Linked DNA regions of Homo sapiens. The protein of the gene in region 2 interacts with the protein of the main gene of each other region in a pairwise test. Each region holds a gene or a part of one and is shown on either strand. Other genes may lie near its edges.

Region 1 (3,804 bases), on a different chromosome or scaffold from region 2:
CGTAGCAATGTTGGGGGACATAATTCAGCCCCTAACAGTCAGCAACAGGGAAAGAGGGAGAAAGGAGGTATGACTGTGCTATGGAGAAATGAAAGCAGACACAGCATTTACAGGGGAAAATAAATTTCATGTGTGTTCCCTCATATCTAGAATTCCCTACCTTTCTTTCCCGATCTCTCCATTCTTTGACACAAGCTCCAATCCCGTATCTGTTCTGAAGCCCTGCTAATCGTCTCAGTCCCAATGGTCCCTCTTTCTTATCCCAAATGCAGAGCACTTCCTATCTATCCTACCCATCTGACCCTTCACCCTACGTGGCCCTTGGGGCAGTTCTTGATGCCTTCTACATTATCAAATTTGAGGCCTCATCTTACACCATCCCTGTGGCTTGCCTAGTTCACACTTACCTTCTGTCAGTTCTTCCTAGGAGGCACATCCCTTCCTGTTTAGGTCAGCCCCTTTGAAATATTCTTCGCCTCTGCCCCTTCCCTGCCCAGCCCCCATTCCCTAATTAATATCATTTCACCCTTAAGATCTCAGCTCAGATGCCTCTTCCTCAGGAAGCTTTTGAAGATCACACACACAATTCACCCTCACGCTAAATGCAGGTCTTTCTTCTATCCTCTCCCCTAGCTTTGTGTCTTAGAACTTACTTAATTACATGCCTGCATTGTTATTATTTTCTTAATGTGTCTCTCCCACAAGATGGACTATACATTCAAAACCTAATGTGTCTCTCCCACAAGATGGACTACACATTCAAAAGCTAAGAATGGTTTGTCTACCATTACCTATCCAGCAGCTAGTGTAGTGCCCGGCACCTAATGAGTGCTTAAGAAGTATTTATTAAATAAAGCAACGAATAAACTAAGTATAAATTAGTATAAATCAGGGGGTCTCATGTGATCTATTTTTTGGATGAATAAATTTGCTGTGAAGTAGAGGCATCATGAAATCATTAAGTAATAATATCTAAACAGAAACATGCACAGATATTAAGAGAACTTAATGTTAAGAGATATTAAGAGAACTTAAAAGAATTTTTTTTTGAGATGGAGTTTCGCTCTTTTTGGCCAGACTGGAGTGCAAGGGTGCGATCTCAGCTCACTGTAAACTCTGCCTCCCAGGTTCAAGCGATTCTCCAGCCTTGGCCTCCTGAGTAGCTGGGGTTATAGGCACGTGCCACCACACCCGGCTAATTTTGTATTTTTAGTAAAGACGGGGTTTCACCATGTTGACCATGGTGGTCTGGAACTCTTGACCTCAAGTGATCCACCCACCTCCTCGGCCTCCCAAACTGCTGGGATTATAGGCGTGAGCCACCACACCTGGCCAGCTTAAGAGAATATTAAAGAGAAGTTAATATCTATGCATATTTATGTTTACATATCATTACTTAATGATTCCTTAAATCATTGGAACTGCGCATAAAAAGCAGAAACTATTAGGTCTAAATTCTATAGGAACTACTTAAAAACCATGCTTTCCTTATCTAATTTATATATATGCATTTTAACTTCTGCAGCTACATTTCTTAGGCCATAGACAGGTATCAGCAGTGTCCCTCTCCCTATGGCTCATTCCACTGCTTGACTTTGGCCTAAAACCAACAGGAATTCTTTACTTAGAGGTAAAAAACTGATGGATTCCCATGGTGATTCCAATCCCACACTCTCCTTTTCTCCTTCAAATTAGGCAGGAAACACTAAAATTTTGGGAACAAGATGTGCGTCACACATTGGAAATGTTCAAATCTGTTGATAACATTCAATATACTTTGGCTAAACGCATGAGGAGGCCACATGGTCACAGCCTAACCAAACACAGAACATAACTAATAAACTGAAGCAACATTCCACGTTATCACTTTCAGCTTTGCACAACATATGGAAACAGGCTCACTGCACCACTTGGTTGTGTCAGAACACTTAAGGGAGGAGGATGCACATTTGGGATTTATTACAGTCACTCACCTAAGGGAAGCGTCCAAAGAAGTGCCTTACAATATCCATGTGGCTTCATGTTACAGAATTCTCACTCTTAAAAGGAGTCTTTTCTAGAAATGTATTGACCTTTCAGGTGTTTGAACTATATGTATGGCCCTGACTGTTCTGAATATTTGAAAGCAAAAGGTACTAGTAACTTACTGAGAAAGCTTTTTTTTAAAAAAGGGGGGTGGGGGGCAGGGGATGGGGGAGGGGTAGCAGGGGGAGGGGTCTTGCTATGTTGTCTAGGCTAGACTTGAACTCCTGGGCTCAAGTGATCCTCCGGCCCCAGCCTCTGGAGTAGCTAGGACTGAAGATGCAAGTAGCTAGGGGCTAGAGGCGAGTGCCACAGTACCTGGCTCGAAAAACTATTTTAAACTAGAAAAAAGGCTGTTCTTTTTCTAAGTATTGCATCAATTGCATCAACTCAGACTACTGAATAGGTTTGTTTTTGTCCTCCATCCTCCCCCAGCAAAGTAACAGACATATTTCCTGTTCCATCCACCTCAACTATTTTATCCCAGTTATAAGGCTCAAGTTTAGTTGAGTTTCTTGGCAAGTAATTTTTCTCATGCTAAAGAAGAAACATGAAGTAAATTAGGAAAAGCATATAAACCAGAAAAATAATACTAACATGATCAAAATCTCCAAATAATTTACCTATGAAGTTCAATTTTGGGAGCTTAGCAGTTCAGATAAATGAGAATTACATAGTCAATTTCCATGTTAGCAAGAAAACTTAAAATTCAAAAGACATTAAGTTGAGTGTTTGAGCCTCTCCTTAAATTCCTCTTTATCAGTGAACAAACATTCAATGCATTCCTCACAACAGGTAAGGCAGTGTCAACAACTAAGATACAGTATTCCAGGAAGCCATGCCTTCCCTAGTCTAATTAACAGGGAAACAAAACCTTTCCAAAGATGCAAATCTACACCTTTATTAAGCTAAACAGACCTACATCAGGTGTCTCAGAAATTATCAACTTGATCACTGGTTCTGGGATTAAAATATTCGAGTCCAAATAAGTAAACTCCATAAAATAAAGGAAATCTAAGAAAAGCACTGTAAGCAGATCAGTTTCACAACATGTGGGCTCCAAATAAGGAAAAGAAAACCTCCCTATCCCAGAGTTCTCACTATCTTTAAATAAATAAATATGTCAAAAGAAACCTGACAGCCTTAATGATGAAACTGTTTTCTGATCAGGTTTTCCAGTGATTAAAATGGTCTATATACTTAAATACTTCCTATCATTTACAAAAGATGAGCCTGAGAAAGTAGTAGGAAAACTATTCTGTTAAAACTGCCTGGTATCCACATCTGCGAATTATGGGAACTAATGCTATCCCAATGGGCAGTTCCTGTATTAAATGAAAGACATCACTTTTGAGTGCTTACTGAAGACATTTGAAAAAAATATTCTCATCTAGATTAATTGTTCTTTAAAAGCAGATTTTACCAGTTTGGCCAATAATTTAGAATTCCTTCTTCTTACAAAAATGAAGTTGTTTTAATTACTGATGCTCTTGACTACTTTTTATTTTTGCAAAAATGAGAAAGCACATTTTATCAGGAATCCATCACCTGCAACATAATTTATATTTATTAGAAATACCTATATTTCTAATAAATACAGATTATTTATATATATTTCTAATAAATACAGAAATTTTGTGTGACAGTTGTGGTAGCTGTCCAAATAATTAGCTTCATCTAAAATTATTTCAGCCCAAACTCAAATCCCAAGAAAAATCATTTCGATGGAAATACTTCATTTCATTCACTATAAAGCCCAACATAAAGCTAGATGTTTTAGTG
Region 2 (4,572 bases):
TATGCCTGGTAAATAACAGGCACTTACTAAATGCCGAGCCCTAAGCAGCGAGTACTAACAGGGGTCCCCTTCAGCCCTATCCCTCCCCAGGACTTGGATCAGGCCACCTCAGGCTGGGGGCCCAGATCATTCAGGCCCCCTCTCTCTCTGGCTGTTGTGGTCAGCATAGACTCACCTCCGGCTCCCAGCTGGGCAGGCTGGAGGGCACCCCCTCCCACACCAGAGAAGGGGAAACTGAGGCACAGAAAGGGCCCTATTCCAGAGCCAACCTAGTCTTGGTTCAGAAAATCGCATCTCCAATGTGTAGCCACGTCTACAGGGGCCAGGAAATCTGGATGCAGGTGCAAAGCTGGGGCCGGGGTTTGCCCAGAAGGTTTGCACCAAAGGGGAAGTGACAGCCTGACTGTGTCCTCCCCTCTTCCTTCAGCTTTGAGCCCTGATGCAACCCTCTGAGATGGGGGTAACTGGGGGCTCCCGCGAACCGACTGCCTGACCCATCCCCTTCCTCTTCTAGAAAGTGCACAAGCGTTACCCCGGGGGTGGGGGGGGCAGAGGCAACGGGGAAGCAGGAAGGGGCTGAGGCTGGTTTTGGACTCTGCACCGTAGCCTCTGGCCTACAAGACAGAGCATCCTCTAGATTCTGGTCTGGCCCCTCCAGATCCGCAGCCCTGACCTTACCCCACTGGCGGGATCTAGTCCCCTGGGGGTCTCTCTGATTATAGGAGCCCTTCCCCCATCTATCCCAGTTCCCAGGGGCCCCTGGGGCTCACCTGTCTCCAGGTGCTGAGAAAAAGGAGACCCCTGCCTCCCCCCACATTGAAGAGAAGCCCCAGGGACAAAGAGGAGTTTGCACCAGCGACGTCTCAGAAGACAGGGGATCCAGCCTCAGCCTCCGTGGGCTGGAGGGTGACAGGGGCTCTTAGTGGTCACCCCCAGGCTCCAGTGCCTCCAGCGGCCGCACTGTAAAAAGGCCCTGCAATTAGAAGGGGCCTTTGGCAACCCCGAGGCCGGGCAGCCCATTGTACAGTTGGGGAAACGGAGGCCCAGGTGCCCACACATGGGCAGAGGCTGACCCCTGGGGCGCACGGAGGCCCTGACCTAGCCTTAGGACCTCCCTTTTCCCCCACTTCCTCCACAAAGAGGTTGTGGGAAGGGGGCTGTGACTCCGTAGGTGTGAGTGGGAGTCGGGGGAAGCTGAGCTTGCAGTGGGGATCTAGCTCCTGGGGGTCTGTAGGGAACGGGGGGGGGGGGGGACACGTACATTACAGGCGACCGTCCAGCCACACTCCCAGAAACTCCCTGGAGATGGACTTGGGGGTGCCAGGCAGAAAGCCACATCTGGGACTCTGGAGAGAATCACACAGAGACGCGAAATCGGAGACTCTGGGTCGAGGCCCCCAGCCCCACCTGGGCAGAGTCTGTCCTCGGACCCCCGCCCGCTGTCCCCCGGGTACGGCCTGCCCCAGCGGGCGCGGGCGGGCGCAGTGGCCAGGGACGCCGAAGCCCCAAGTCTGGCCGACTTCGGCCTGCTTGGTGCTCGAGTGGGGCCGGGGCGGGCGGAGAGCGAGGCTGCGGGAGGCAGCGGTGGCAGGAGCGGGTGGGCGGGGGCGCTGACGTCAGACCCGGGCCCGGGCGCCGGCGGCCGCTCCCCTGCCACATCCTGGTGGCCGCGCTCGCAGCCGGGCCGGGCCGTGCGCCGCGCAGCCTGGCAGCCTCGCGCGCAGCCACCGGGGAGCGGGCGGGAGTCATGCAGCGGCCTTGAGCACTAGGGGCCGGCGCTGAGGAGCGCGCGCGGCGGGAGGGCAGCCGAGCATGGAGCTGAGCCTGGAGAGCCTGGGGGGCCTGCACAGCGTGGCCCACGCGCAGGCGGGCGAGCTGCTGAGCCCGGGCCACGCGCGCTCGGCGGCGGCGCAGCACCGCGGCCTGGTGGCGCCCGGGCGCCCGGGCCTGGTGGCCGGCATGGCGAGCCTGCTGGACGGCGGCGGCGGCGGCGGCGGTGGGGGCGCCGGGGGCGCGGGCGGCGCGGGCAGCGCGGGCGGCGGCGCGGACTTCCGCGGGGAACTGGCGGGCCCGCTGCACCCGGCAATGGGCATGGCCTGCGAGGCGCCGGGCCTGGGCGGCACCTACACGACGCTCACGCCCCTGCAGCACCTGCCGCCGCTCGCGGCCGTGGCCGACAAGTTCCACCAGCACGCGGCGGCCGCGGCCGTGGCCGGGGCGCACGGCGGCCATCCCCACGCGCACCCGCACCCGGCGGCCGCGCCGCCCCCGCCACCCCCGCCGCAGCGTCTGGCGGCCAGCGTGAGCGGCAGCTTCACCCTCATGCGCGACGAGCGGGCGGCGCTCGCCTCCGTGGGCCACCTCTACGGACCCTACGGCAAGGAGCTGCCCGCCATGGGGTCGCCGCTGTCGCCGCTGCCCAACGCGCTGCCGCCCGCGCTGCACGGCGCCCCGCAGCCCCCGCCGCCGCCACCACCCCCGCCGCTGGCCGCCTACGGCCCGCCAGGCCACCTGGCTGGGGACAAGCTGCTGCCGCCCGCCGCCTTCGAGCCGCACGCCGCGCTGCTGGGACGCGCGGAGGACGCACTGGCCCGCGGGCTGCCCGGAGGCGGCGGCGGCACAGGCAGCGGCGGAGCGGGCAGCGGGAGCGCCGCGGGGCTGCTGGCGCCGCTGGGCGGGCTGGCGGCGGCCGGGGCGCACGGGCCGCACGGGGGAGGCGGCGGCCCCGGCGGGAGCGGCGGCGGCCCCAGCGCGGGCGCAGCGGCCGAGGAGATCAACACCAAGGAGGTGGCGCAGCGCATCACGGCGGAGCTGAAGCGCTACAGCATCCCGCAGGCAATCTTCGCGCAGCGGATCCTGTGTCGCTCTCAGGGCACGCTCTCCGACCTGCTGCGCAACCCCAAGCCGTGGAGCAAGCTCAAATCCGGCCGCGAGACCTTCCGCAGGATGTGGAAGTGGCTGCAGGAGCCAGAGTTCCAGCGCATGTCGGCGCTGCGCTTGGCAGGTAGGAGCGTGGCGCGCAGGGCCAGACCCTGGGGGCGCCGGCTCTGGACTCCCGAGCACCTAGCGGGGCGGCGGCCGATGCCCGGGGCCAGCGCCCCAAGCCCCGCCCGTGCGCCCCGGCAGCCCGGGACCCCCTATCAGGAAGCTAGACCGCGATCCGCGCCGCTGCCCGTTTGTACCGTTGCCAAAAGGGAGAAAGGGATTGTGCCGCCTCCCCGCCCCCCGGTCGCCGCTTCTGCCCCTTTCGGGAGCGCGTAGGGGTTCTCTAGTCCTTGTTAGACTGCTGGGAGGCTCCGAGCCTCTCCCCAAGCAGCCCTCAGGGAAGCTCATTGTGTGTGTGCGTGTGTGTGTGTGAGCGCGCGCCTGTTGGGGGGAGCTGTGTCCCCGAACGAGCTGCTGTTGTCGGCTAAGGTGCCACTCCCCTCCTCCAGAGTGGGTGGAGAGGGGCTGTTGAGCCCCCAGCCCCGGGCCACAGAGCTCCGAGACGTTGCGGCGGGCGCCTGCAGCTCAGCAGCAGAGGCCGAGCCCGCGCTCATCCCCCCACCTGCCCCAGCGCGCGCTTCTTTGTAGTTCGGCCCCGCGATCGATACCCCCTCCCTCTCCCCTCCGGCCGCTGGCAAAGGTCACCCGAGAATGGCGGGGGAGGGGCGGCCCCGGGGACCCTCGGCCCGCGCCGCCCGGAGGCCTTCACACCCCGACCCGGCGCCCGCCCCGCGCAGTTTGGTCGTGGCTCGGGTGCGCGCGCCCCTGCCCGCCTGGCTTTGGGGTTTTGTGTCTCTCATGTCCACTTCTCTCCTCTCTCGGTCGGAACACACTGGTATCTCTATGTTTTTCTCTTGCTCTCCGTTTTGCTCTTGTTCCTGCTCATTATCTCTTCTCCCTGTCGGTCTCTCCGCCTCTGTCTCTGTCTCATACTCAGCCACCGGCCCCCTGGGGACCCTCCTCCCTCCTCCCTCCCAGCTGACAACAGCTAAGTCCACACCTGCCCTCTGACAGGCAGCCCGGCCAGGCCCCCATTTCCTAGGTGGGGGTGTAAGGGTGCAGGAGGGCCCCTGGCCTAGGTGGGGGTTTCTTTCCCTGGTGGTGCTGGGGAGGGGGCTGTCCACCCGGGCCACAGGGACAATAGCCGCGGCGGCTGGCGCCTGATCGATCGCTTCTCCGAGCACAAGGGCGAGAAAGGCGGGGGCTCTGGGAGGCGCCCCACTAGCAAAGAGGCAGAGGGGCTTGCGGCTGTGCCCCCAGGCAGCCCGTCCAGGCAGGGGGGCTGGGCGAAGAGAGGACAGCGGGGTGTCCTGTGCTGTTCCTCCCTAGAAAGCCATTCCCTCCCTCCACCCCAGGAGGACCAGACAACCCCCTGGGAGCCTGGACCCACAGGCCGGCCTCAGTTTCCCCCTTCTGCAGAGCAAGCAAGGTGACTAGCTGGAACCTCTTATGGGATTCTTAGATTTTTCTGCTTTGGGGCACGGGAAAATAAATAGTCTTTCGCGTGTGGCAGGGTAACCTTGTGCTCAGGGAGGTCCGGGAACCTGGACGATTTCAGTCTGTCCTGCTCCCCTCCCCATGACACAT

Evidence for each region.
Region 1: the proteins of ONECUT3 (region 2) and SH3RF1 interact in a two-hybrid assay, tested with the Homo sapiens proteins (one large-scale study listed by BioGRID).

Annotation. Positions count from the first base shown.
Region 1 is NC_000004.12:169,264,442-169,268,245, forward strand, and holds part of SH3RF1 (E3 ubiquitin-protein ligase SH3RF1), read right to left. Parts: intron 1-3,804. UniProt on the Homo sapiens protein: Has E3 ubiquitin-protein ligase activity. In the absence of an external substrate, it can catalyze self-ubiquitination. Stimulates ubiquitination of potassium channel KCNJ1, enhancing it's dynamin-dependent and clathrin-independent endocytosis.
Region 2 is NC_000019.10:1,751,851-1,756,422, forward strand, and holds the start of ONECUT3 (one cut domain family member 3), read left to right. Parts: upstream 1-1,655; 5' UTR 1,656-1,812; coding exon 1,813-3,004; intron 3,005-4,572. UniProt on the Homo sapiens protein: Transcriptional activator. Binds the consensus DNA sequence 5'-DHWATTGAYTWWD-3' on a variety of gene promoters such as those of HNF3B and TTR.